7 linked regions of the Homo sapiens genome follow. The protein of the gene in region 2 interacts with the protein of the main gene of each other region in a pairwise test. Each region holds a gene or a part of one and is shown on either strand. Other genes may lie near its edges. The genes, in order: XIRP2, DYSF, CMYA5, COL12A1, ANKRD1, DGKD and ZNF23.

Region 1 (3,583 bases), about 96 Mb from region 2:
CACTCTGCACAATCACATTATTGTTGTCATTAAGATCCATAGCACTTTTCCTGTTACTCTTTGTGTCTTCAGCTTCACTCGGCCTATCTTGCACATTCTTCCTTCCTTCCTTCTTTTCATCTTTTCTTCCTTCAGGCATTTTCATTTCTTTGATTCCTATAACATCCTCTTTCTGACAAACATGGGTGGACTGTAGATAAGGCTGCAAAAATGGAAAGTGATCTTGTCTTTGTCCTTTATTTTCTGGAGTTCTAACATCTTCTAGCAGAGATTCACTTTTAAATTCAGGGGATAGCAGGGTTGTCATTTCAGGTGGCCACTTAGGTTTACTCATTTTGAGCTCTTCCTCAAAGGGTAAGGTTTTCTTAGGGATCTCCTTGGAAGGAGGCCAAATGACTTTTAATTTTCCCCTTTCCCCTAATTTTCTCAAATCATTCCTTTGCCCTTCACTGTTACCAGCATCTAAATGTTCATTACGATCTCCAGGTACAAGGGTGTTTTCTGCAATATTTTTACACATATTTGGTTCTTCATTAGGAATAAAGTCCACTGATCTGCTTTGGTTTTTGCAGTTCCATCTATCTTTATGCTGCTTATGTCCAAAACCTTCATCATAATTTCCTTTGGATTTGAAAAGTTGTTTAAAGTGAGGTTTACAGTATATTTGTCCATGAAGTGATGCATAATTTCCCAAACTGCCAAAAAGAAAAAGAACACTTAGCAGTTCGTATTTACTGTAAGTTCATAGGGAATTGGGGATTAATTATTTCAATGAGTTACAGACTAGTAAACTTAAGTTACTAGCAATGGGAATGGCCCTATTAGTTGAACATTTCTGTTAGATAATATTACCACCAATACTTTATATGATGTATGTCTTGCAGTGTTTAGAATTTTATGATGTGTGTCAGGTATTGGCATAATAGGTATTATAGGGTAATGCACATATGGTTATACATGGTGCAGAGTGATAGGACTGAACTTGTGCTAATTCAATGATTTATGTGAGGCGTTGTAATTTCCAATAAATCCTGAGTAGCAAACACATACAAATCAACAATATGAGCTTCTTTGTTAACTGGATTTTGAACGAGCTGGAAGGTGTGCCTAACAATTGCTTATGTGGCCTCTTTAAGGAGATTAACAAATTGAGTGATTTAAAATTAAAATGAACTCTAGTCAGAGGCAGGAGCATAGTTTTCGAAATATCTATGAATCTACACATAAAAACAGATACATCAACAAGATAGCAAAACTTAAAACCCATGGGGAACATTTACAACTAAATGAAGTGACAAGATAGCCCCCTCAACATCAAAATACAAAGAACTAAGGAGAAACCACCAACAGTCACAAGGCCAGCATGATGGTCTCATCTGTATTGGTGATAGCAGAGGGAGCAAGGAAGATGTCTGATGGACCTGAAAATATGAGACCACAAAATAACCAACTAATATTTCCTGGAAAGTATCACATGCCAATCAGAGAACAGCAGCTGAAACTTTGAGGAGATTTGTGATCTCCAATAGACAATGAGTGCAAGGTCCCTGTGGTAAGGAAGACTTGAAGAGGCTAGTGAGGTTGAACTCCTAAAACTGGGCTCCCCTTTTAAACAGAATCCCAAAGTGAGAAAAAATAGGAGAGTAGAATCAAGATTGAGCAGGATAATGATTACAGAAATGAAAGAGAAGGTTCTGAAAAATATGGAGAAGAGGAGCCAAGCCAGGGAATTCTGGAAATCAAGCTGCCTTATTTTCTTGATCAGCATATGAAAACTAAAAGAGGTAGCTCTGTGAAGTTAGAAAAACCATCCTGATTTTTATCCTTCTAAGGTTTGGGAAAACTAATTTTACATAAAAATGAGAAACAGAAATGTACCAAGGTAAATAATATATGAAGTTATTAAAAGAAAATAAAAGTGCAAAGGGCATTATAATATCCCTGTAGATAATGAAAACATGCCAGAAAAACATGCCCTAAAAATATATCAAAAATTTAACCTATGACTTCAAAATGAATTAAAAGACATTAAGAACATGATAAAAGACCTGAAAGAACATCATGAATCAGAATTTAAAATCTCATAAGTGAGGTGCCAGAAATCAGAAAAAATAGAAATAAAAGATAAAAATATCAGCAACAAAACTAAACTAAAAGAAATACAAGAGCAAATAAACACAATAAAAAGTGGCTTAAGAGAAACAGAAGAATGAAAACAACTTTTTCAATAATCAGAAAGAAATAAATATGAAAAGAATTTGAGAGAAAGAGACAGATAATAAAAATAGGCAAAAAACATTCAAGGTATAGATAATAGGAATTCTTGAAGAAAAAACTATATAATAAAACAGATTAAATATTAAATAGTTATAATTAAAACAAACTTTCTTGATACAAAAAAGCATGCAACAACATACAGAAAGAGCACACTGGGTAACTGACACTAGTGAAGAATGACCAATGCCAAGAACTAATCTAGTAAAATTGCTAGATTTTAAATAATAAAAAGAAAAAAATCTGTGGGTATATTTAAGAAAAAATATACATCTTATAAGGAAAATAAAATTAGATCGTTATCAAGCTATTCCAACACTTTATGCCAGAAGAAAATAAAATAATGTATCAAAGAATACAATGAAAGTATAAGCCAAAGATTTTAATTTCAGCAAAACTGACTTTTTGTTATAAAGGTCACAGACAAATTGTTATCAGCATGTAAGAATTCAACGAATATTGTTTCCATGAAGAGTTTAGAAGAGTCTACTAGAAACCAAGCTTTAATATCAGAACAACTGCAGAAACATCAAGGTAAGCATTGGTGGTGGGCATTAATATCTTGCAACCTGAAAACTAAGATGAAATAAGGGCAAAGAGGGAGATAACACGGTATGTAGTGGCTATATGATCTGAAACTGAAGATGTGGTACAATAATTTATAAAATGGGGAGGGCAGATGTAATTTTTAAATGTTTTGATAATGAAATTAGTGGTGCTAATAGATGATACTTGCTATGGGAATGGAGAAAAGTATATAGCTTAAGAGGTATTTATGGGGCAGAAATTGCAGGACTTGGTGACGGCTTGAATGTAGGGAATGAAGGAAAGGAAGGAGCCAAAGATAACTCCATGCTTTGGTCACTGAGTTAATGTTAATGTCATTTACTGATACAGTAGCATAAAGACTGTAAGTTAAAGAAGGAATTTAGATAGAAGAAAATGGGGCATATTGAGTTTGCTGTACTTATGAGAAATCTAATTGGAGAAGTATATCAGTCATTGAGATATAAGCATCTGATGCACAGAGAGATTTGGCCTAGCAGTACAGACTTCAGAGTCATTACCACATAGATTATTTAAATCATGGGAGTGGATGTGATTCACTAGAAAGAAGAGAAACGTTGAGAAGAATAAATTCCCATAACATAATTGTGAGGACCTCTTACATCTTGGTAATGGACAGAGAGTCCCCCACACAGGTGCCTGAGAAGGAGCACACAAAGAGTAGGGGAAAAGCCATTATACTCTGTTGTTATGGAAACCAAGGGAAAAAAATGTTGCCATGAGGGTGTTCGACATTGTCAAT
Region 2 (4,696 bases):
AAAAATCCATCCCATTTTATTTGCTTTTAACTTTGGTCCTTTGCCTATTTTTTTTTTCTTTTCAAAAGAATTTTCTATTTTGATGTAGTCACACAGTGATATTTAACTCTTTACAACTACTTTTAAGGTTAAAAGCAAGAATCTTAAATCTCTATTTATAATACTAAGTGCAACAAATTGCAAAAATATATTTCTATTCTAAATCATGGTAATTTAAGCAGAAGTCCTAGCTCTAACCACTGTTTGCCCCAAAAGACAAAATTCTAGCCCCCATACTACTATTCCCCAAACATGTTCATATTGCCTTTGTTCTCTTTATGGAAATACCATATGTTTATTTTAGACACTTTGGAAAATATATTAAAATGAGGAGATTAAAAATCACTCATCCATCTTCCCATTGCTATTAAGAATATATCCTCCCATATTATGCAATTTACAAAAAAAAAAACAGTTGGTCAGTAAATAACAGTTGATTCTAAAGTGGAGCCAGTAAATATCTTATTTTTTTCCATAGAATTGCCTTAATATTGTAAAATTTCATATTTTAAAATATCTTACCTAATATTTGGAAGCATAGACGTTCTTGAAGTCTTCATTTACTTACAGCTCAATGGCAAAAATTCTTAATTTATTTCTCAGAATGTAAGAAAGCATTGCATCTTATAAAGAATAAAGACTATTTCTGGGGTCACTTCACTGTGTAAGTTCGACCTCTGAGGGAATTGTCAATAAAGAATATTCAAGCCACTTAAAAATGCCAGTATCAATGGGGTCTCGGGTGGGGCTTGTGCCAATGGCTGAATGACATAAATGGGGGCTGTATCTGCCCACCCCTGGGGTTTAATGTGGGTAGCCGACGAGGGGCAGCCTGGCAGCTCTTCTATGGAGCTGTGGAATTTTATAGATGTAAGGGGCCTTGGTGGGAAAATATGATAGTTCGTATAATGCTCTTCCTAATTCCTTTTTAATACTTTCCCCAAGAAGCCAGTGGTGAGATGGTCCCTGAGATTTCTGACTCTTGGGGTGGATGGTGGGTGGTCCTTAACTCTTCCCCCTTCCTCCTGCTCTTTCCTCCTTCTGGCTTTCAGATCAGGGTCCAGGTGATCGAGGGGCGCCAGCTGCCGGGGGTGAACATCAAGCCTGTGGTCAAGGTTACCGCTGCAGGGCAGACCAAGCGGACGCGGATCCACAAGGGAAACAGCCCACTCTTCAATGAGGTGGGAGACATGGGGCATGAGGGCCAGAACCTTGGTGGGCCTTCCAATCTGGAAGCCCAGTGCAGACACCTGGCAATTCATTCAAGAGTGTTTACGTATGGCGCTGACCTTGGGTGGTGAGATGTGCTGGCTCCCAAGGAGGTTATCTGTGGGACTGGAGAAAGGGCTCCTGCTCTTACTTCTCCTGCTGCTCCACATCCCTGTCACCCTATAGGGCCAGCCACCCACCCAACCCTGAAATGACCACGTCTGTGAGGCCAGGGGCAGATCACCCCAGAACTTGTCCAATCCCCAGAACTGTGCCCAATCCACATTTTCTGAGGGGACTAAACTGCTAGGCGTGGAGGCTTGGGGGTGGTGGTCCTCCCTCTCCCTGGCCTGAGGGATCAGCAGGCACTGATATGTCTCTCTTTGCTCTGAACCAACAGACTCTTTTCTTCAACTTGTTTGACTCTCCTGGGGAGCTGTTTGATGAGCCCATCTTTATCACGGTATGTCTCAGCAGTCAAAGTGTTCTCCGTGGGCTGTATGTATGCACATAGGTGTCAGTGCACACGCGTGTGTGTTTGTGCACGTGTGTGCATGTGCACGTCAGTGTGAATGCGTGAATGCGTGTGTGTGCCTGTCGGTGTGTATGTGAGTATGTGCGTGAGAGGGAGACGTGTTAAAGCCTGACATATGGATGATGTGGAGTAACTCACAGTCAGGCTCTACGGGTCACAGAAATGCCTGCAACAGCTCAGCTGGCAGGCAGCAGCTGCGGGAGAGCCCACTGCTCAGCATCCCCCTGGGGCCTCAGGTCAGGGTCCTTAAATCACTTGTGGCAATGAACATTTAAGGTTCCATCTTATTTTGTTAATCCACGTGCCTGCTTCTGACTGAGATTCTCTTTCTCTCTGGGCCTTGGCTCTTCCCCCATCTCCTCTGAAGCGCACTGCAGCCTAGTGGCTCTAAGTGTAGGCTCCGGCACTAGAGTGGATTCCAGCTCTGTCTATGCCGTGTAGGGATTGTGTTTTCTGTACAAGTCTCTGTGCCCCTATTTCACCTGTGAAATGGGGATAATGACAGTATCTGCTGATGGGGTTCCTGTGAGGGCTAAACACTGCTTAGAACAGTCTCTGGAATTGAGTAAGTGTGAAGTGTTGGCAGTTATTGTTTGGGAGGGAAGAGCTATTGGGTTGGCCGTGTGGGCCACATGTTCCCTGTGAATGTGAGTTTCCATGATCTTTCTCTGCAGGTGGTAGACTCTCGTTCTCTCAGGACAGATGCTCTCCTCGGGGAGTTCCGGGTAATTGCTTATTTTCTATGAAAGCAGTCAGTTCTCACTTCTCCGTGTTGGTGGAGCCTCTGTGGACCATGGGCAGGGGCTCCAGAGATCCTGTGTTTCTCTGCTTTGGGAAAATATAATTTCAAAGAACAACGCCAAGCCCTCTGCACAGCATCTCCTTTCACCCCAGAAAACCTCTCCACAAAGGTAGAAGAGAAAGAAAGCACTTTTTGTCACTGAAGAGGCCTTAAACCAGAGTGAGATGTACATCACAGGCAATGATCCACTAAGATGCTGCAAAGACAGAAAGAAATCTCACGCTAATTTAGCCAGCGGGTCCAACCCATTGCCCACCACATACGTTCTCAAGAGAAGCTATGCCCCACCCTCAGGTCAGGGGACTTTACATTTCAGACCTCCTGAGAATGACATTTGTATACTAAAGCTGACAAATGGCTTATTTAGTTTCTTAAAAAGATGTATAGCACCTTTGGTCACACCGAGTTCATCCCAAAGTCACCTGGTAATCGGGGTGACCATCTATGTTAGCTAATTTGTTGTGTCCAGAAGACCAAACAAAAATCAAACTCATATTTTTATGACAGGAAGTAGTTTTACAACTTGGAGCAAGGTGCGCACGGGAGTTAGGCTCCTATCTTCCGACAGAAGCTGGGACACAGGGGAGCCGTCTCCCTTGGTGTTTATATTTCAGACGTCCTGAGAATGATATTTGTATACTAAAGCTGACAAAAGGCTTATTTAGTTTCTTAAAAAGATGCATTTCAAAGAGACAGGGAAAGTGTAATATATTTACAAGTTTTCTAAGGTAAGTGTTCTGACAAAAAGAGAGGGGAGGGAAGTACTTCTTCCCTTATTTCCAACAAGCAGAATCAAGACCCTTATTTGTAATTTGGATTTTCCCCCACCTCTGGGAAGGCCGTGTGAGATCTGAGTTTGGGCAGCCCTCCTCCTCATCCTGGCCATCTTGGGCCAGTGAGACCCAGCGCTCTCTGCCCTGACATCACTCTCACCCTGGGATGGGAGTGGGGTTCAGATATGGATCCCTGGGGGAGGGAGAGGCAGTGGAGAGAGGGGAACCCTGCCCCAGCCTCCTCACTTGTCCCAGACAGTCCAGAAGTGAATAGTCCTCTTCTGAGAACCGAGAGCCAATGGATTTAACAGATTACGTAAAGTAAAGGTAACTAGTAATTGCACAGACTAAAGGAGACCTGTATGATTTTTTTTTTTTTTTTTTTGAGATGGAGTCTTGCTCTGTCGCCCAGGCTGGAGTGCAGTGGTGTGATCTCAGCTCACTGCAACCTCTGCTTCCCAGATTCAAGTGATTCTCCTGCCTCAGCCTCCCCAGTAGCTGGGATTAGAGGCGTGTGCTACCACGCCTGGCAGTTTTTTTTTTTTTTTGGTATTTTTAGTACAGATGGGGTTTCACCATCTTGGTCAGTCTGGTCTTGAACTCCTGACCTTGTGATCTGGCTACCTTGGCCTCCCAAAGTGTTGGGATTACAGGCATGAGCCACCGTGCCTGGCCTGCATGGTGTTTTAATGTAATTTGATGTAATTGTTACTAATTTTCTCATTTTGAAATTTTCAAGGATTTCTCAAAAGGAAAGAAAGAGCACAAGCTTATTTTCCCCTCTCCCCTCTATCCAAGTATATCATGCCTTCCTTCTTTAAATTTGTATTTTAAATATGAATTTAAAATAAGGGGCTTGGTTCTGCCTGTTGTCAGAAGTTACCTTAGAATTATTTATTCTGCCCAATAAATAATTGCTGGGACCAGGCGCAGTGGCTCATGCCTGTGATCCCAGTGCTTTGGGAGGCCAAGGTGGGCAGATCACTTGAAGTCAGTAGTTCAAGACCAGTCTGGCCAACATGGTAAAACCCCGCCTCTACTAAAAATACAAAAATTAGCTGGGCATGGTGGTATGCGCCTGTAATCCCAGCTACTCAGGAGGCCGAGGCAGGAGAATCGCTTGAACCTGGGTGGCAGAGGTTGCAGTGAGCCAAGATCGCACCATTGCACTCCAGCCTGGATGACAGAGCGACACTCCATCTCAAAAAAAAAAAAAAAAAAAAAAAAAAAAAATTACTGGGTTGGACCTGATGGCTAGATCAGTGGGTGAGATTTCTTTGTCTTTGCGCTGTCTTCTCAAATCATTGCCTGTGGGAAGAAGTCACAAGATAAAAAACT
Region 3 (4,083 bases), on a different chromosome or scaffold from region 2:
TAACATTTTCAAGGATTGAGAAAGTGAAACTAACATTCTCCACAAAGCAGCAAGTTACTTCTCCAGTTTCACCAAGACTCCATCTTGCCAGCAACTGCTGGAACTGCAATCAGGGTGGTAATGGCCTCCAAGGGCTCTAGTAAGGCAGTTACAGATCCAGTTCAGATTTTCTAGCTATTAAACAAGAGATTTTAGAATATATTCAGAAAGAAGGATATTATTTCTCAATTCAAGAAAATATCTGGGCGGGACACAGTGGCTCACGCCTGTAATCCCAGCACTTTGGGAGGCCGAGACGGGCAGATCAACTGAGGTTAGGAGTTCAAGACCATCCTGGCCAACATGGCAAAACCCCGTCTGAAAAAGAAAATATAAAAATTAGCCAGTTGTAGTGGCGCATGCCTGTAGTCCCAGCTACTCAGGAGGCTGAGGCACGAGAATCGCTTGAACCTGGGAGGCGGAGGTTGCAGTGAGGCGAAATCATGCCACTGTACTCCAGCCTGGGTGACAGCGTGAGGCTCCACCTCAAAAAAAAAAAAGAAAACATCTGAATTCAAGTTTTGAAGTATTTTTTAAAAACTACAAGTATGATCAACACATTTACATTATAGAAGACAAGCACAATCATCTTGACATACATTCTAGATTTATCCACTTTGCACACATATTTTAGAAAGATTTTGAGGGATTCAACATAATATCTTAAAATGACCACTTAATTTTAGTAAAAATAGATTCCCAGCTTCTGTTAATTGACTATAACTATGGTCTGAGAGTGATTAGATTTTAAAGTGTGTGTGTGTGTGTGTAAAATTCTCACAGGAAAATCAATAGTAGTGCACTGCACTGAAGTGTAATGAGTTTTACTCTGCAGTTTGTCCTGCTCCAGAGATGCCAGGCCAGTAAGTTACATGGAGTAAGTTCACATAACACGACTGGCTTTATAGACTCTAACCATTTATTTAACAAAATGGAAATTTCTAATATATAGCACTTTTCTACATTTAAAATTTTAGGGAGGAGAGACTCATGTTCTACAGTATACATTATTACAAAAGAGTTCATTATAAATTTAAATCAGCTGAAACAATTCCTTTAATGATTAGGATTCATCATCCTTTAGTGCAGCGAGGTGACATTTTGTGGAAAGCATCCATGGCTCTTCGTCAGAGATGTCTTACCAGCACAACCTTCCTTCACTCTGACCTGTCCATCAGAGGATTTCCTTTACCAGTAAAACAGATGGAAGTCCATTTTTCTCTTTCGGTTCCCAACTCAAGTGTAGATCTTTTAATTTAGGAAAGAACTCAAACTTATATAAACTAAAGAGTGGAGGTTGTTGTTTTCATTCTGTTTACTCACACACTGCTCTGTAAAGTCAAGGTTTTCTTGTCGATTTTGCTCACATGCTGATTGCTATGCATGCAGCCATCATTAGTGCAAATGCGCGGGAGACTTTTTGAATAATGTATAGCACCTAAAGGAATGAACAGCAGACCCCCCCAAAATTCAAATCGCTGTTCTTGCAAATTCTGAAAGCCAAGGATCACTTGTGCCTTACAGAATCCGGGGGCTCTATCCCCAGGTGCAAAGTACATTTTCCAGGTTTCTCCAGGGCAAAGGCAGGGTGGACACCCTCATTAAACCTGTGCCTGATGATGAAGAGCAACTGCTCGCTCTCTGCGTTGATGAAGATAAGTCTCTGGTTGTTGTAGTCCAGCAGGATGCCCACTCTGGCTGGACGCTCAGTCACATGAACATCACTCACAATACCACTGTAGAAAAATGTGTATCTGAAATGAAAGCGAATGGGAAACATAAAACTCTGGAAATCTCAAGGAATTTGAAAAGGAAAGTCACTTGGGAATAACCAATTCTTCAGTTATTAACTCCACTTCACAATAAGGAGTTGCAATAATGCTGTCCCAAATACTTCACTAGATTTCTTCTAGATGCTAAAATGCAGAGCTTATCCCAACAGATGAGCATGTTTAATAATTTTGCTCCTCCTACATTAGGAGGCAGTCCCAGAATAGCCAACATATGCCTCCCTTGTGATTTATCTCCACATTCTAATTCTCTCCCAGCTGCCCACATGTTTTAACTACCGCATTCATGGCGTGTCATTCTTTTGAATAAAACTCCTTTGAGGCTGCCATGTATTTTTAAAAGTACCGTAAGCTTGCCTTCCATACAATGTATTAATTTTACAGTTTTAAAATTTTATAGGTAACTTACATAAAGGCCTTTATGAAGTTTAAGGAATATTTCATTATTTTGCCAACTTCATCCTTTGTTTCTGCTCCCCCTTCCCCAAACCAACTCTCCTTTTCATTTTCTCAAGGTTTTCTGCAGCCTTGCCACCAGCGGGGTTGCCTTTGATTCCTCTCTTTAATTCAGACAAATTCAACTCAACAACTATTCCTTGTGCATATCCATGTATCCAGCACTTTACTAGGCACTCTGGGGCATGTGAAGGACATGAAGTGCTGTCCTTGCCCTCTGGGATCCCATACTGTATGGAGCAGGAAGGAAAAACTGCCCACATTTGAAACTCGGACCACGGCTGGGAATGCCTCTCAGGGTGTAGATCTTCAAGTGTTTACTAGACACATTTAATGAAGCTGTTTTGGTTGTGAAGGGAAAGGTTCAAGGCCAGGCTGGAAAGGAGAAACTGCTGACCAGAAAAGCTAAATTGCTCTATGTAAAAAAGTAACACAAGTTTGGGGTTTTCTCCCAGTAGTCTTAGAAACTGAGAATGGGGCCCTGAAAGTAGCGGAAGGAGTGGAATGAGAGATGGAAGAAGAGAGATGAGGGAAAGGTCGACGGATGTGTAGGCTGGAGGGGTGGGAGCACAGCAACACCAGGGCAGTTTGGACCTAAGAATCTGGGTAAGCGACGGGTCTGGCAGGGAGGGCTGAGGATCTTCAAGACTTGCAACAACTGTCTTAAGGCTCAGAAGCTCAAGTGCAAGTATTTAGGGGATGGCAAGTTGGCAACTTCATTGCAGAAAGAAGCTCACGTGGAAGGGCAGAGGTTCACGGTGGTGGGGAGATAAGTGAGACTTTTGAGTTGATAAAGGACCTTTTCAATGCCTTGCTAATGAGAGAGATGCCAGAATACTATGATGTTCTGGAACCTGCAAGACAGACTAAACGTTTCAGGTAGCAATGATGGGGACTGGCAGTGTGAGCTGGGCTCTTACAGAAGGCTTTGGGAGCACAGGGCTCACACTCAGCCAGAAAGGACAGGCAGGACTTGAATAGGTGAAAAAGAAGGAGAAAAATCCACACAGTAAGGGCAGCAGCAGTGATGGTAAGGTGGCTGAAGAAGTCCGTATGTGGCAGAGAACATCACCATTGGCCTCTTGGGTTTGGACAGGACATGGGGGTGACTTTTAGGATGTTACGTGGATAAGTAAGTCAGGGGCCAGGCTCTAGACTTGCCCTGTCTAATATAGTAGCCACTAGACATGTGTGGCCACTTCCATTAAAATTAAAGTTAATGGTGGAGAATGGGATAGAGATACTCAGATGTGGAGATAGTGTGGTGGCTTCTCCTTGACAATGAGATAGGAAGGTGCCAGCAGCCAAGAAGGAAAAGGTGACAGACAAGACCAGGAGGGCCATTTGAATAGGGCCTCATATTTCACAGAGGGCTTTATAAATTTGAATTTTTGACATTTCTTTCAGATATGGGCATATATAAAGTCATTGCCTTTGTCACTGCAATTGTGTCTGTTAAAAGAATTACTATGTGAAATGTAAGTCCTTAGAGTAAATTTTAATAACCCTGTTAACTGGCATTTCTTTATTTTTTATAATAGTATTTTGAGAGTTCCCAATTAGTAGAAGAGTCTTGGGTCTCTTTCAACTTCCAAGAGGCCCTAGTCCTGAGAGACAAGGGTGAAGGAGTTCTAGAGGGTCTCACTCCAGTGGTTCCTAGTACATATTTGTGCAATGAATAAATGGATGGTTGGTGAACAGTCCGACAGCAGAGAAGAACCAAAGGGCAAGTGCAAACCAAAGAGTTGGGAATAAGGAGGCATTAAGGTTGGAGAAAATGGGAGCTGTAGTGATCATT
Region 4 (3,500 bases), on a different chromosome or scaffold from region 2:
TTCCTACAATGGCAACAACGTACCTGGATAGCCTTGCCCGTTGTATGGGATGCTGGCACACTGAGAAGAATCACAGTATCCAGGAGGACCTGGGGGTCCTCGGATACCTGAGTTTCCAGGACGGCCAGGGGGGCCAGGGGGACCTCTTGAACCTGTGGACCCTGGTGGACCTGTTCTGGATTCTCCTTGTGGACCTAGTGTGGAGTTAAAACAAATATATTTCCCCTCTTGTCAAATACAACTCCTGAGGTAGCCACCAATACTTTAAGTGGCACCTCCACTGTCTCAAAATTAGACAATTTACTATTGTATGGTAAGAAAATGTTTCCTTAAGAAATACCCAATATGAACCAAGGTGTGATGGAACTTTCTTACCAGTGACTCATCAGAGTTAATGCCAGAAGTATTTTATTCCAGAAAACCTGATTTAGCAAAAATTCAGCCAAACCAGAGATATCAGTGAGTTCTTTGGTTTGCTCCCACTCTCACAGAGAAAAGAGCACCTGAAGGAAACAGCTCTGTTAAGCAGCTACATTGAGCTGCCATCAAAAGAAGGCAGCGTCTGCTCCACACCTCCAGCCTATGCAAAGCAATATTGTTTCTGGATCAATAGTTATAGTTAACATAAATGGAAAGATTTAGCCATAGGGCTGTCCTTGGTTGCAAGGGTATCATGTGCCTTATAATGAAAAAAGAAATCATTTACAACCTAGTAAACAAAATGCATCAGACAGACATGTAGTAGTCCTATCCAAAATATAAAAATGCTTTGGGAGAGCAGTGAATGAAATTTACCAATATCTCAGGCCCTTTTAGTGAGGCTATGTTTTCTCAGTCTAATAGCCCCATATTGAAGACTACTGGAAAAAACAGGAAATATAACCATCTTTAAAGTCTATGAGGCCAAAAAAAAAACAAATAGGAAGGGAGGAAGGAAGGAAGGAAGGAAAAGGGAAGGAAGGAAGGAGACAGAAAGGGGAAATAGTAACCCTTTGTGTCACTAAAATTCATTTCATCATATATTAATGTTATAGTTAATGCCTAATAGAAACTTTTCATTTTTTTAACAAAGGGAACATGAAAATGAAGTTATGGAGGTTGAACTTCTTGCTAAAACATATGCCATGGTAATAAGAATGCTTTATGCTATAATAACAGGATGAAGTTGGCTGGGAGCGGTGGCTCACTTCTGTAATCCCAGCACTTTGGGGCCAAAGTGGGAAGATCATGAGGTCAGGAGATCGAGACCATCCTGGCTAACACGGCAAAACCCCGTCTCTACTAAAAATTAAAAAAAATTAGCCAGGCGTGGTGGCGGGCGCCTGTAGTCCCAGCTACTCGGGAGGCTGAGGCAGAAGAATGGCGTGAACCCAGGAGGTGGAGCTTGCAGTGAGCCAAGATCGCGCCACTGCACTCCAGCCTGGGTGACAGAGCAAGACTCCGTCTCAAAAACAAAAAAAAGAATAACAGGATGAAGTTGTGAATCTCTTCGGGATGGTGTGCCCTCTCGGTATTTATAGTCTTTGCCTGTTTAAAATACTAGCAAACCTACCTGGGGGGCCAGGCAGCCCCCGAGGTCCTGAAGATCCAGTACCCCTTTCACCTTTCTCTCCTGGCAAACCTAAGGAGGGAGAAAAAGAGAAAGCACAGGGGAAAAATTATCTGGAAGCATGTAATTTTCATCTTAACTGATAATATTTGATTCAAGTAATTCATTTCCTTAGTGAAAGCAGAACCTAATTTTTCACAGAAGTTCACTCTTTAAGCCAAGTTCTTTCTAGACATTTGTGTAATTCTAGATTTATGGCCAAGAAAAAATTTGGCTACAAGGCAGGGGAAAAATTATTTGAAGCAAACAAACATGTCTAATATATTTTTAAATAGTAATTAGGAACAGTAATCCTGAAGAAATTGTTATAATATCTCATTGAAAAACATATTAAAGGTATTTTATCTTTAGTAGCCCTATTAGTACAGCAGCCAAACCAGTAGAATTATAGAAATATGTAGGTTTTCTCTAGAGTATTAAGTACTCCTTTGACAAAAGTGGATACCCAGAATCCTGAAATATCTGGAATCAAATAGTCCTGTTTTTCTCCTTTTCCTTCAACTGCAGTTATCTATACCATGAAATTAGAGCCAAACAAACATACAAGACCAGTGCCAGACCCTGAATAAAGGAACCAAAATAAGTTGGATCTAAAACTCTAGGGCTGCCTAAGAACATTCAGTTGCTGCTCGACTCTTGCCGCAGTCACAGAGAGTAATAAGATTTGGGTAGCTGATTTAGTTTGCCAAGATAGAGTTTTTCCCATTAAAAACAACAAAAGTCAGAAAATAGCATTATCTTTACTGAGATCTGATAAAAACATACCATTTTTCTAAGACATGGATCTCTATGGCCTATGAGTTGCCTAACAGCTCTTCTGAGGCTGTCCAAACAAGACCAGGGAAAGCAGTTTGCCTAGGTCACCTTTCAGATGCCTTCAACCTGTCCCAACTCCTACATTTGCAAATTCCTTCCTTTATCCCAATACAGAAGCCAGAAATGCCTACCTCGTTCCCCAGGGGGTCCCTGCATCCCTGGTGTGCCCGGGAAGCCTGGCCGCCCCCCAGGCCCAGGTTCTCCTCTGGCTCCTGCGCTACCAGGAGGTCCCGGTGGACCCGGCGGGCCTGGCTGGTTGCGACTGGACTGGTAATCATTTGGAATCTGATTCAGCATCTGATTGAATCTGTTCATCTGACCTACAAGCAGAAATAAGGCTTGTTAGTAAGAAACCCAATAAAGGACGGATGAGAGAGTGAAACTGTTTTCTCTTAGTGTCTAGTGAAATCCATCTCCATTCTGCAACCCCTCTAAGGAAACAATCTAATTAGAATCCTAAAAATAAAATTAAGACAGTCTAATCATCGAGGACAAAATGGTCCCTGATAAATAACTGTTTCCACAAAATGCTGACCTACAAGCCACAAACATTACTACAAATATAAAAGAGTTGTTAAAGTTTAATATGGCTCTGAAATAAAGTCTTGAGATTTACCAGGTGACATCACTCAAAAGAAAACCTTTTTTATAATTAGATAATTCTACAATTTTTTGTATATCTAAGGCAATGATAATCAGGTTTCAGTGCAAACTGGAATTGCCTGTGGGGCACCTTGAAAAATCTGTATTTCTGGGCCTTATCTCCAAAGTCAATGATTCACTAAGCTTAGGGCATGGTGCAGGAACTCACTTCTAACAAGCAACATAAGTGATTCTAAGGCAGGTGTTCCTCAGTACCGCACTTTGGAAAACATTGATTAAGACTTCTCTAAGAGTGAGTTATGGGTTTAAGGCCCACACCAGTCTGCAGGTACTGAGCTTCATTACTTAACAGGCCTTATGGAATAAGAAGAGCCTGTGAAAAACAGGCAAGAGAGAGTTTCCTACCAAAATCAACTTTCACTGATCAAATTCATCTTGGTGGGCCCCCTTCCTTAAGGTCATAAAATGACTT
Region 5 (4,068 bases), on a different chromosome or scaffold from region 2:
AGATTTGTTTTAAAAGATAAGATATTCCTCTCAGTCTTTGCAACACAAATAAGGGGAGAAAATTATTTGCATTTATATGATGACTGAGTTTCCCTCCCCCCCCCCCCACTCTTTTTTGTAAAGTGATTCTTCAAAAGCTTCTTTAAAATTATTTCTTCAGAAATTTATACCTGTTCCTCTGGGCAATATTTTTTAAGCTTATATTAGATGGTGTTTGTCTGGAAATTGAGACCATGAGGAAAAGTTGGTTATGTTCCCTGCTTACAGATGAAGTTAAATTAATATGTACTTATACAAGAATTTTCAGGGCCTAAATATAGGAAATTATTTTGAGAGATGTGAAGACAAATCCAAGTGGAGAATGGATAGAAATTATCTGAAAAAAAATACAGGCAAAAGCACAGCTACCCCTGGAAGAAAATGGTGACATTTCACATTGCTGTAAGGAGGAAAGGGACTTTCTGAATTACTCAGATTGGATATTGATTAACCTTAGTTCACTGGCTGCACTGACCCTTGTGGAATTTTAGGACATTTTGGAAATGGTGGATGCCTTTATTTCTAACTTCCTCAGCCCTTGCACAGACAGAAATGGCCAAAGCAGATTGGACTTCTAGGTGTTTGTGGGGATGAGCAAATTTTGACTATCTTTCATTTCCAAGACCAAATTGTAAAAGAATTACTATGCACTGTATCAGGCACTGAGGTCATAGCAGTATCTATGACTTCCCTCATCTCTGGCCATGTGAACTGGGTCCTAGCCAAGATAAACACTGTCCTTGGGGAAATGGGCAGGGGCATTTAGACCATCGAAGACCCCTCAAATACTGCCATTGTGGGAGTCGTTTCACCTATTTAAGAAATGCTCCTGGAAATTGGAAAGCTTGCAAGCGGTGTTTCTTGTTTCCAGTACTTACACAGTTCTTGATGTTGAGATCCGCGCCATACATAATCAGGAGTCGGATCATCTTATAGCGGTTCAGTCTCACCGCATCATGCAACGGGGTATCTCCTTCCTAGAGAAGCAGAGTCAACAGGTTCAAGGTGGGTCTGAGGCCAGGAAGTGGGTCCTGCAAGGGCACCCAGGCTTGGGGGAGTGATTCCAAATACAAAAGCAATGAAGCTTTGGGAAACCCGAGCGTGTCCAGCTACTCACTCTGTCTTTGGCGTTGAGGTCTGCCTCACAGGCGATAAGATGCTCCGCGCACTCATAGTGGCCAGTCCTCACCGCCACATGCAGCGCTGTGCTGAGCAACTGGAAAATTGGAAAACGCTGCTGATTCGCTAGGAATGAGGACAGAGGCTGTCCCAGACCCCAAGACATGTGCGAGGGGGAGAAGTGGTCACTAGGGTGCCTGCACACAGCATGGGCCTCCAGATGACTTTAATGGAGAGGCGAGGTTAGGAGATGGAGGGGTGGGGGAGGAGGGAAGGGCGGGTGGGGGAGAAGGAGGAGGGGGAGGGGGAAGAGTGGGAGAAGTGGAGAAGGATGGGGGACAGGGAGGGGGAGGGGGTGAATGAAGGGAGAAGGAGAAGAAGGAATACCTTATCTCGGGCGCTAATTTTTGCTCCTTTATTCAGCAACAATTTTAAAACATCCAGGTTTCCTCCACGGCTTGCCCAGTGGATGGCTGTGGATTCAAGCTATACCGGGAGGGAAGACCCGACAATGTGAAGGAGAATGTGGTCTGGGGAATTAGAACCTGGTTGCTAGGGCATCCGTGAAAATAATGAGTTGTCCCCATCTAGATTGACAATTCTAACTGGAGTCGAAGGTTCTTACCAAATGTGTTAGCTAAATTACATGTGTGTGTGTGTGTGTGTGCATATGTGTGTCTTATTAGGAGGCTCTTAATAAATCTAATAATGTTTTAAAAGAATAAGAATGGCCACTTATTGAGACATTTCTCATGCCAACATGGTGCTACACTTTAGACACCTTGATTCTTCCAGCAACATTTTGAGGTAGGTGTTGCTATGCACATTTTGCAGATAAGAAAAACCAGGTTCCAAAAAGTTCAAGTTTCTAGCCCAAGGAAACACAACTAATAAGAGGCAGAATACACAGTCAAACTCCCCTCTGCCTGGAACTTCTAACTTCTTTTGTCAAATGTACACAAAAGTTCTAAACACATGTATTTAAAAATTTTGGCAGAATAAAAGTAGTCCCTTCCAAAATATTTTAATCTGGATCTGACACCTCATCTAGGGTCCCTGTCGCTCTTTCTCTACTTCTGTGGGTTTTCTGCTCATTTTTGCTAGCACAGCCTCTGTACCTCAACTGTAGTCACTTGTGTCTACAGTTGTAACGTGTATAGTTACCCCTAGGAGACCCTCTCCTCACTGATCTATGTGGTTGGTATGCCCCTGGCCTTAATCCCACACTCATGATTTTTAGTTTCCATGCAAACTTCATATTTTGTTTCTTGATTTTTTTTTCAATGTGTTTATGTTTTGGATTCAATTTTGGCCAAGTCCCTTGGATTTCTTTGATATCCCGTTGCCGCTTTGCTATAAAGTCAAAATGAGCTGCATTTAAATACATAAAGAATTTTCCCAGCTCAATCTTCAGTTCATAAATTATGCTGCATACTGGTCTTCGTAGAAATCACAGTGATTGAATTATTGAGGTCTGAATAGCAGCTACTTTCCATAGATGCAATTCATTTCATATGCAGTCTAGCCCCAAATCTCATTGGTAGCAATTGGCATCTATCATATAAAGTGTGCAGCTAGAGAATTCGTATATGTTGCTGGCAGCCAACCATAAGCAGGCTGCCCTGTGAACAATGGAGGGACAAGGCTGTTGAAAGGCAAGTGTCGAAAATGAATGACTAACTCGCTGATGAGGATATTGAATTCAGTTTAACAGCTTTCACTTCCTTCTTTTCCCTGAAATATTCCTCTATTTTCAGTATGTATGGAAAATATTTTCACATGACCTACTCTCATCTCCCAACTTTCCTTTATTTGGAGAAATGAGCTTTTGCCTAGTTCTCTCAGATCAATTTTCAATCCAATCAGCTCGGTTTTGCATTGGAGGTTTTCCGGAGCTTCATATAGTCTACTTCTTTTGGCTCATTCCCAAGCAAAGAAATATATTTACCATATCACGGAATTCGATCTGGGCTCCAGCTTCCATTAACTTCTCCACAATTGCCAAATGTCCTTCCAAGCATGCTCTATGAAGAGCTGTCCGTTTATACTATCAGAACAGAGATTTTAAACAGAGATAGCAATAAATATAAAAATGTGTGTAAACCCTTTTAAGAGCTATGAAGCTGGAGATTCTGATGACCTAACTGATAGAAACTCAAGTGCTTCTTTATGAATAGAAATGTCAAAGTTAACTAAAATTGCAGAATCAGAACAATTATCCTGCAACTAATATTTGAGCTTCCTCCAATATACATTTCCAAGGGCTCAAAGGCCTACGTTGAGGAGTGTGAACTTAAAGGCTCAAAACTATCTAAATGCTGACATCTCCGTTTCTTCTATCTTGCACCTTCCTTGTTCATGTAGCATTACCATGCAGATCAGACAGCTTTCTTGCATCTGGGACTGTTGCTAGACTATCAAAAAGTTTCCATTCATTTTTAGGAGAATGGGAGACATGTTTTTAGTTCAACTTCAGAAGCGGTCCCCAATTTCACTTCATGGGGGAAAGAATACAAAAAGATTAGTGATTTCTGATAAATTGGCTTTATTTGAATGGGCTAATGAACTATTAGAGCTGGAACAACTTTAGGCGTTATTTCACTCCAATGCCCCATGTTTACAGATAAGGAAACCACAGCCCAGAGGATGCAAATTAGCTGCTCAAAACCAAATAGCCAAGTAGTGGTACAACTGGCCCCTGAACTCCAATCTCCAGATTTCTTATCTAGTGTTGACGTGCTTGGTTTTAATCAAAGATGATGCTAATAATATATCTCTAAAGGTGACTTTTTGGCCCACATTAAAAGTCTTATCCCAAGAATCTAAGAAGTTAAAGAAAAACTGAAAAATCAGCCAGATGTATATGAGTGCAAAAAACAATGCAATCCGTATCACTGATCTAATATCTAT
Region 6 (5,230 bases), about 160 Mb from region 2:
GGTGGGTGTATTACTTGAGCTCAGGAGTTTGAGACCAGCCTGGGGAACATGGGGAAACTCCATCTCTACAACAAAATACAAAAATTAGCCAGCATGGTGGCATTTGCCTGTAGTCCCAGCTACTTGGGAGGCTGAGGCAGGAAAATCACTTAAGCCCAGGAGGCAAAGGTTGCCGTAGCTGAGATCGCACCACTGCACTCCAGCCTGGGTGACAAAGTGAGACCTTGTCTCAAAAAAAAAAAAAAAAAAGAAAGAAAGAAAGAAAAAGAAATGCACATTCTAAGGCCCCACCCACCCTAGACCTACTCAACCATAATCATCATTTTAACAGGATCCCTAGGAGATGTGTCTGCACATTAAAATTTGAGGAGCACTGCCCTAAGACATTCTCTTTTGTTTTTCTCTTCATTAAGACAGCTCTGACTTGCACTAGACTAATATTTTAAAAGCCTGACATACATACAGTTCTGGTCCTGGGCCAGCTTGTCCTCAGATCCATTCTTTGTCCTTCTGCTCCAGTCCAAGTTGTGGAGGAGGTGACCCCAGCAAGGCCAGGGTTCCCAGGCAGGAGGGGAACAGTACATCCGCAGCAGCAGCTGTGCCCTTGCAAGGCTCCAGCCACTGCCAGATGGACCCCTTGTGACCCCAGTTTTTGGTGGGTGACAGCTGTCCCTGGAGTCTGAAATGCCATCTCCTTCCTTCACCCTCCAACTTAGGGGTGGCAGCAGTTTCCTGCTTGTTGCCTCATCTCCGGCTTGCCTCATTGCAGCCTGCATTCTCAGTTCTCACATCACCTGTGTGACCACTCCCCTAGATTACATTCCTTCTGTTCCAAATACTTAAGGTGAGTTCTGTTTTTCTTTTTAGACTCAGACTGCTACCCCATACCATTTTTGATGTTTCTATTATGTACCATAGATACCAGAGGAATTTTGTGAATGGCTTATCTGCTGGAAAAAAAAAAAATGGAGCTATTACATACAGTCAACCTCGCATTCCCACATTCTGACAATCTCTTAACAACTCAGAAGAAAAATCAGCCTTAAGCTATCTGTACAGCAGATGTGACTGTATTCAGAAACTCTAAGTCCTCGGGGTGTATTTTTAACAGTCTACCCATCACTCCTCCTCAACCAGAACAGCTGGTATAGCAGCTATTGTTTTAGGAGAAAAAAGAAGGAAAGCAAAAACACCTCCTAACCAACAAAATTCTAAACACTGGAATCTCCCAGGAATCAAATCTCTCTCAACACAATCTTGATCTTAATCAACCTTGTAAATCACATGATCTACCCCACACTGGTCAGTACCTTGCCTGGGCAACAGGAGAAAGCAACTCCTATCAGTATCATTTAGGGCTATGTGGAGATCTTCCCAAAAGCACATCTGATCCATCACCCCCATACTTTGAACAATCCTCTGTGGCCACCTCTTGCCCAAGGCCAAAAAGCAAACCCCTCAAAGGACCACCCCTTCGAAATTCAGCCCTAACCAACCCTTCCAACTAATAAGTCTAATCAACGTGATCCACCTCTGGCCCAACTTCTGATCATTTCGCAGTTGTGCCTAAAGCTCTAGACGCAAGGTTCAAATATGTAGAAGGCCATTTCTTACCCACTTAGCCTGGTGAATTCTTTATCCCTCAAGATCTCACCTTAAAGGAAACCACTCCTGCCTCCCCAGGGCAGGTCTCTGCCCCGAGTTTCCGCGGCACTTACAATGTTGTCATGTCAGGTGCACAGGCGTCCATCTCCCAACTAGACTGAGAATCCCTAGGTGTAGAAACTGCCTTCCATCTTACGGTCCTGACCATGGTTCCAACACACATCCACATTTACGACCTGTGACACCCTGGGCAAGTCATTTAACCTTGATTCTATTTCTATTCCAATTCCAAAAGACGGAGATGATAGCATCCAACTTATTGGGTTCTCACCAGTACTAATAAACTAACCATGTCAAGTGCTGTAAAGCTAACCCAAGAAAGTGCCTGGCACATAGAAGGCTTATTAAAGAATTGTTATTTGCTATTGCTATCATTATCATCACTACTGCTACTGTTATACCCGGAACAAAGCAGGTGTTCGGTACCTATTTGCTGAATAACTGGAGCACTTCACAACAAACCTGTTTGTAACATGTTAGGACCTCAGGTTCCCCCATCGCAGGTATCAAAGGCTGACAGAAGAGAAGGCTCCCACGGTGAAGGGAACGGCTGAACCTAATCCGCCCCGGAGGAAAAGCGCACTGCAGCAGGAGGAGAAAGTCCGTGCCAACCGGATCTGCCAGAGCTGCCCCAGGGACCCAGCCTGCTCGCAGCCACCTGTCCAGCCACCTGCCTGAGGAAGCAGTGTTCTAACCGGGCGGGCTCACCTGGAGCAAAAACCGTAAGCTGTTTTCAATAGGAAGCACAATGGGAAAACAAACGGTGCAACTTTCCTCCTGCAAAAAGGACGTGCGTCTTTATCTAACATTTAGCGTCAGGAGTTCTCCGTGGAGAGTTGGGTGCCAAGCGGGTGCGCGGTCCCGGCTTTGCTGAGAGAGACGGTCACTGAACGCGCATCCCTTCCTTCCCTTTTGGGATGAAGGGGTGAAGGGGTGATCCCTCGCACCCGGGTCCGAGCGGACTTCTGAGGGCACCACAGGGAAGTCTGCAGGGCACTCGCGGGACACCACCCGACCGCTCCTGAGAAACGTGCAGAACCGGGGTTTGGGGACCGCGGACGCCCGCGGGGCGCAGCCGGGAGCCCCCGCGTGGGACCCGCTCGGTGGCACGAGCGCAGTCCCCTGCATCTAGGCCTCAGTTTCCTCCGGGTCCTCGCGGCCCAACTCGGCGCGCGCCCCCCGCCCAGCGCGCGGCGCCCGGGGCGCCCACCTGCGCGCCCCCCGCCCGGCCCCACAGCCGCCCGCCGTCCGTCGGGGGCCGCGCGCTCCGCCCGGGGCGCCGGCCCGTTACAGCGGCGGGGCACGCTCGACAGGGGCGGTGACGCCCGCGGGACCCCGGGCCGGGCCGAGCCGGGCCTGGGCGGCCGCTCGGGCAGGGCCACGGGCCTCGGCCGGGGCTGCCGCGGCGTGAGGGGCGCGCGCCCGGGCCGCCGCGCCGCGGGCTCACCTTCTGTCGGATCTGACCCGACGTGGACACCTTGCGGATGAGCTTCTGTGGGGAGCCGGGCTCCGCCTCGGGCTCGCTGTCGGACGACTCCTCGGGCGGCGGCGGCGGAGGCGGTTGCGGGGGACCCGGCGGAGGGGCGCCCGCCGCCGCCGCCATGCTGCCGGGCCAGCGCGCGCACCGCGGGCGGGGGCGGGGCGGGGCCGGCGGGAGGGGCGGGGCCGAGGGCGGGCCGGGCCGGGGGCGGTGGGGGCGGCCTCCCGCCTCTCCCCGCCGCGCCCCCTGCCGGCCATGCGCGCAGCTGCAGACGGCGCCGCGCGGCCCCTCCCCGCCCCCACCTGAAGCGTCCCGGGCCCCCCGCCCACCTCTCCGGGCCGTGGCTTCTGTGTGTTATTTCTGGAACGCCGTTTGTGTTCTTGTTTCTATATTCACTTCTTAAAACATCTCTACTCTTCCGCATCAGAATGTAGGTAACCTCAGGCAGGCTGGGGCTGTGTCTGTCCTGCCCAGCCTTGTGTGGCCGAGTTTGGGGCGAGCTCGAATGCGCGCGCGCGTGCTGGAAAGAGACCCCGGTACTGGGACGGGCCTCGGGACGCCAGAGCTGGGATGCACCGCTCCATCTGGGAAGGCTTCCTGGAGAAAACGGTTCTTAAGGAGAGATGGAAAATGTGAGCAGGAGTTGTGACTAGAGAGGGAACCATGTTCTAGGCAGAGACCAGATTTGTGCAAAGGCCTGGAGGCAAGAAAGAACGAGTGTTGGGCGAAGACGGGGGAAGAAAGGGAAGCTGGTGCTTAGAGCAAGGAAAATGGCATTAAGATATGAGCCTCGGGGCGGGCAGGTCGAAGCGGGCTTTGGAAACCAGATAAGGGGATGGAAGGCAGCAGGAAGCCCTTGAGGGATTTAACCCTGGGCGGGGCTGGGTCACCACGCTGGGGCCTGTGATCCGGGCTTTGAAGTTATCAGGGCAGGTGGACGCCCTGGATTACCGAGGGGCTGAGAGATAGAGACGTGGACTGAGATCCAGGTGGGGAGTGACCAGCGACTGGAGGGAGACAGAGGTGACCAGAACGAGTCCCATGTTTCCCAGGGGGGCTGCTGGATGGTGGGCGGGTGGGGTCCAGCGCTGCTCTGGGCAGAAGAGGAGGAAGCGAAGCTGGAGATGAGATCAGCTAAGTTTTTGGTGCCATCCAGGTGGAGCAGGGCTTGGTGCCACCCAGAGGAAATGCTGTCCATCTGTCTGCCCTGCTCTGAGGGGCAAATCAGTAAGGGACTGCCCAGGTGTGCCCTCTCCCTGTCAAAGGGCTGCCGCTAGAGACCTCGCCTGCCAATAGGCATTCGCTGGCCGCGCCGCCCTGGGCAGTGACCTGGGGCTGCAGAGTGGCATCTGGCATGGGGACACGGCCAGGGGCATGGGCTCACGGCCAGGACAGAGGAGGACAAGGCCTAAGGCAGGAACAGTCCGGGACAGGCCGAAGGCCCCATGGTGCCCCAGGGTACTATAGCCACTAGCCACATGTGGCTACTTAAATTTCAATTAGTTAGAATTCAGCATTCCGTTCCTCAGCCACAGGAGCCACATTTCAGGGACTCAGTAGCCGCATGTGGCTTAGCAGCTGCCACGCTGGATAGCACAAATATAAAACACTTCCCCCGTCCCCCCAGAAAGTTCTGCAGCACAGTCGCATGCTGAACTGTGTCCTCCCGTAATTCATATGTTGAAGTCCTAACCCCCAGTACCTCAGCATGTGACTGCATTTGGAGTTAAGGTTTTTAAAAAGGTAATGAAGTTAAAATGAGGTCACAGGGGTGATCCCTAATCCGGTATGACTGGCGTCCTCATAAAAAGAGGAGATGAGGACACAGACACACACAGAGGGCAGCCCATGTGAAGACACAGGGAGAAGATGGCATCTACAAGCCAAGGAGAAAGGCCTCCGATGGAACTCCCCCTGCCGACACCGTGATCTCGCACTTCCAGCCACCAGAACCGAGAGCGTCAATTCCTGTGGTGGAAGCCGCCCGGCCTATGGTGCAGTGCTCTGGCAGCCCTAGGGAACTCATGCAGGCACAAAGGGCTCCAGCCTCCCCACAGGGTTGGGACTTTTCTATCAATTAACTAC
Region 7 (3,771 bases), on a different chromosome or scaffold from region 2:
TTGAGGTTTAAATGAGATAACACATATCAAATACCTAGCTTATAATGTGTGCTCAGTTCAGTATTTTTATTTTGGTTTTGGGGAATACAGCTGTACACAGGGAAGGTAATGTGGAAGGGAGGAAGTGCTCTTAATTTTTGCTTCTTAAATGTGAATGTGTAAAGGAATCCTGAGGTCTTACAGATATGCAGTAAGTGTGGAGTCTGCATTTCTATGAAGTTCCCTGGTGATGTGGCGATGCCAGTACTTCTGGTTACCAGACCACACTTGAAGGAGCAGGGCTCCAATTGGTGCCAGCAGAGTAGCTGCCAAATGACTTCTCATTCCCCCCGAGGCCCCCCGTTATTTCTTATATTTAGGGTCTGTGAGATTCTCTTGAATTTTTTCAGTGAGTCTTCATTTTTCTTAGATGGTTTCTGTAGGTTTTTATTCCTTTTGATCATTCTATCAGACGATATCTGACCAAAGAAGGCATGTTTTGGAAATGGAGTTTGCCGTATAATGGCCTTGACAAATATAGGGAAAAAAGTGATATTGTGAGGTCTTAATCAAAGGACCCTGTATTTTATTCTGTAGACAGCTGACTGTCCTGAAGTCTTTGACTTTTCCAGGAAACCCATCATGATCCTAGCTGGTGATAGAAACATTAATGTAGTCAGTGTGTGTGGGTTAATTGGGATGAGGAATCAAACAGGCTCTAGGCAGGCAGAAGGGAGGGCAAAGGGCATGAGGCCCATGGCAGCAGTGTTGACTTTCTTTTTAAAAATCTTCAGAAGCCCAGTCAGTGATACCTGTTTAAGACTCATTTGCTGTAACTGTGTCAAATGGCCATCCTCACTGCAAGAGAGGAAAGTGAAAACGAGAGATATTTCACCTATCATATTGAGAATAATTAAATTATATTCAATGTTGGTGAGAGTGCAGCAAAGCAGGAATAGACTTCTGGAGAGGATGACTAGACATCTGATAGTATAGATGTCTTAGTCAGTTTGGGCTACAATAACAGACTGCCATAGATTGGATGGCTTATAAACAACAGAAATTTATTTCATACAGTTCTAGTCCAAGATCAAGGTTCAGGCAGGTTCTGTCTGGCAAGGGCCTGCTTCCCGGCTAATAGACAGCTGTCTTCTCACTGTATCCTCACATGGTGGCAAGAAAGGGAGCTCTCTGGGCTCTTTTTTAAGGGCATTAATCCCATTCATGAGGGTTCTGCCATAGCTCAACCTCCTGATACAATCACATCAGGGGTTAGGACTTCAGAATATGAATTTGTGGGGAGGACAAACATTCAGTCTATAGCAACAGATGAGTATTATTTTTTTAGTTGGGAAGAGACCAGTATTATTTAGAAAGTGCTTGCTGGGGAATCCAGGCAATTGGAGGGGCTTATTGAGGGCAATTATGAAATACTGGGGCAGGGGGCATATTACATGTGGTTGAGGAGTGATGAAAGATGAAAAAATATGAGGCAGCATTTTGGGACTGAGCTTTTGAGAAAGTTGGGAACAAATGCAGAGATGAGTAGTTCTAGTTCTAAAGACTATTGGGATTATAAAAAGATTTTTAGGGAATGATCAAGTTTAGGATTAGAGGAAGAAGTGAAAGGAAAAGGCAAGGTTAATGCAGCAGTATTTGGAGGGGAATGGGAAGAAAGGGGATGAGATGGACCTCAAATAGAGCCTGTCTAAAGTAGAAATGAAGTTGAAGGACAAATTTTGGAAAGCCCACAGTTAATGTTCTAAGGAAAGAAACAAAATTATTTCCATTTTGCTCCCTGGTGCTGCTGACTGTTGTCATCTTCCAAGTTGCCATATTCTGTTGGATCCTGTGCCTTTTCCTTCTTCAGCATTTTCCATTTTTTTTTAAGTAAGGAACTGAGTGCTATAGGAACAACTAAGAAGAAACTGCAGGGTGTAGAAAAGCATGGTGTGATTAAAAGAATGCTGAGCTGGTGGACAAGACCTAGAATTTTATTCCACTACTGTCACTTTTTTTTTTTTTTGAGATGGAGTCTCGCTCTGTCGCCCAAACTGGAGTGCAGTGGCAAGAACTTGGCTCACCGCAACTTCCGTTTCCCGGGTTCGAGCAATTCTCCTGCCTCATCCTCCCGAGTAGCTGGAACTACAGGCACGTACCACCACACCCGGCTAATTTTTTGTGGTTTAGTAGAGACGGGGTTTCACTGTGTTGCCCAGGCTGGTTGCAAACTCCCAAGCTCAGGCAATCTGCCTGCTTCAGCCTCCCAAAGTGTTGGGATTACAGGTGTGAGCTACCGTGCCCAGCTGTCACTTTTAACCTTCATGTGATTGGTTATGTTCTCTACAGTGGCCTTGTATTAGGCACAGTGGGAATGGTGATTTTTTTTTTATCATTACTTTCATTGCTTTTCATTACTTTCATAATATTGACACCTATTCAACAGTACAGAAAGTGTATAAAGTAGGGAAGCAAGTCCACTAAACTTCCTATGCCAGTTTATTTAGTTTCTTATGGATTCTTCTAGAAGTTTTCTAGGTATGTACAAATATATATATCTGTCTTTTATATTTTTCTTTACACAGCTGAAAATCTATTCTATATACTGTTTTTTCAACTTGTTTTTCCATTTGATTGTATCTTGGATGTCTTTTTACGTCAGCATATATGGATTTATTGTATTCTTTTACTAGTTAGTTACAAATTACTTATCCCACCTTATGGAGAAACCCTATGTTTTTTGACCTAGTCTGGTGATTTTAAGGAGCCCCCTGATTATTATGGTCTTTTATAGCACAGTTCTCTTCTTTTTCCTAACATGGTTCTTACATGACATTTTATGTTTTCTGTTTTTTATAGTAGATATTCAGACTGACAATGATTTGACAAAGGAAATGTATGAAGGAAAAGAGAATGTATCATTTGAACTTCAAAGAGACTTTTCCCAGGAAACAGACTTTTCAGAAGCCTCTCTTCTAGAGAAACAACAGGAAGTCCACTCAGCAGGAAATATAAAGAAGGAGAAGAGCAACACCATTGATGGAACAGTGAAAGATGAGACAAGCCCCGTGGAGGAGTGTTTTTTTAGTCAAAGTTCAAACTCATATCAGTGTCATACCATCACTGGAGAGCAGCCCTCTGGGTGTACAGGATTGGGGAAATCCATCAGCTTTGATACAAAACTCGTGAAGCATGAAATAATTAATTCTGAGGAAAGACCTTTCAAATGTGAAGAATTAGTAGAGCCCTTTAGGTGTGACTCTCAACTTATTCAACATCAAGAGAACAACACTGAGGAAAAGCCTTATCAGTGTTCGGAGTGTGGCAAAGCTTTCAGCATTAATGAGAAATTAATTTGGCATCAGAGACTTCACAGTGGGGAGAAACCCTTCAAATGTGTGGAGTGTGGGAAAAGCTTCAGCTACAGTTCCCATTATATCACACATCAGACAATCCACAGTGGGGAGAAGCCCTATCAGTGTAAGATGTGTGGGAAGGCCTTCAGTGTTAATGGAAGCCTAAGTAGGCATCAGAGAATCCATACGGGAGAGAAGCCCTATCAGTGCAAGGAATGTGGAAATGGCTTCAGCTGTAGTTCTGCATATATTACACATCAGAGAGTCCACACTGGAGAGAAACCTTACGAGTGTAATGACTGTGGGAAAGCGTTCAATGTTAATGCAAAATTAATTCAACATCAGAGAATCCATACTGGAGAGAAACCTTATGAATGTAATGAATGTGGAAAAGGCTTCAGGTGCAGCTCCCAGCTTAGGCAGCATCAGAGCATCC

The links.
Region 1: the proteins of DYSF (region 2) and XIRP2 interact in a two-hybrid assay, tested with the Homo sapiens proteins (one large-scale study listed by BioGRID and IntAct).
Region 3: the proteins of DYSF (region 2) and CMYA5 interact in a two-hybrid assay, tested with the Homo sapiens proteins (one large-scale study listed by BioGRID and IntAct).
Region 4: the proteins of DYSF (region 2) and COL12A1 interact in a two-hybrid assay, tested with the Homo sapiens proteins (one large-scale study listed by BioGRID and IntAct).
Region 5: the proteins of DYSF (region 2) and ANKRD1 interact in a two-hybrid assay, tested with the Homo sapiens proteins (one large-scale study listed by BioGRID and IntAct).
Region 6: the proteins of DYSF (region 2) and DGKD interact in a two-hybrid assay, tested with the Homo sapiens proteins (one large-scale study listed by BioGRID and IntAct).
Region 7: the proteins of DYSF (region 2) and ZNF23 interact in a two-hybrid assay, tested with the Homo sapiens proteins (one large-scale study listed by BioGRID and IntAct).

Annotation. Positions count from the first base shown.
Region 1 is NC_000002.12:167,254,969-167,258,551, reverse strand, and holds part of XIRP2 (xin actin-binding repeat-containing protein 2), read right to left. Parts: intron 696-3,583; coding exon of another isoform or gene 1-695.
Region 2 is NC_000002.12:71,514,532-71,519,227, forward strand, and holds part of DYSF (dysferlin), read left to right. Parts: intron 1-1,091; coding exon 1,092-1,220; intron 1,221-1,648; coding exon 1,649-1,711; intron 1,712-2,457; coding exon 2,458-2,508; intron 2,509-4,696. UniProt on the Homo sapiens protein: Key calcium ion sensor involved in the Ca(2+)-triggered synaptic vesicle-plasma membrane fusion.
Region 3 is NC_000005.10:79,797,080-79,801,162, reverse strand, and holds the end of CMYA5 (cardiomyopathy-associated protein 5), read right to left. Parts: intron 1,794-4,083; coding exon 1,547-1,793; 3' UTR 941-1,546; downstream 1-940. UniProt on the Homo sapiens protein: May serve as an anchoring protein that mediates the subcellular compartmentation of protein kinase A (PKA) via binding to PRKAR2A. May function as a repressor of calcineurin-mediated transcriptional activity.
Region 4 is NC_000006.12:75,087,554-75,091,053, forward strand, and holds part of COL12A1 (collagen alpha-1(XII) chain long), read right to left. Parts: intron 2,746-3,500; coding exon 2,557-2,745; intron 1,622-2,556; coding exon 1,553-1,621; intron 195-1,552; coding exon 24-194; intron 1-23. UniProt on the Homo sapiens protein: Type XII collagen interacts with type I collagen-containing fibrils, the COL1 domain could be associated with the surface of the fibrils, and the COL2 and NC3 domains may be localized in the perifibrillar matrix.
Region 5 is NC_000010.11:90,914,626-90,918,693, forward strand, and holds part of ANKRD1 (ankyrin repeat domain-containing protein 1), read right to left. Parts: intron 3,206-4,068; coding exon 3,107-3,205; intron 1,645-3,106; coding exon 1,546-1,644; intron 1,256-1,545; coding exon 1,157-1,255; intron 1,017-1,156; coding exon 918-1,016; intron 1-917. UniProt on the Homo sapiens protein: May play an important role in endothelial cell activation. May act as a nuclear transcription factor that negatively regulates the expression of cardiac genes. Induction seems to be correlated with apoptotic cell death in hepatoma cells.
Region 6 is NC_000002.12:233,352,557-233,357,786, reverse strand, and holds the start of DGKD (diacylglycerol kinase delta), read right to left. Parts: upstream 3,294-5,230; 5' UTR 3,269-3,293; coding exon 3,113-3,268; intron 2,658-3,112; exon of another isoform or gene 2,164-2,657; coding exon of another isoform or gene 2,128-2,163; intron 687-2,127; exon of another isoform or gene 500-686; coding exon of another isoform or gene 464-499; intron 1-463.
Region 7 is NC_000016.10:71,448,953-71,452,723, reverse strand, and holds part of ZNF23 (zinc finger protein 23), read left to right. Parts: intron 1-2,008; exon of another isoform or gene 2,009-2,130; intron 2,131-2,838; coding exon 2,839-3,771. UniProt on the Homo sapiens protein: May be involved in transcriptional regulation. May have a role in embryonic development.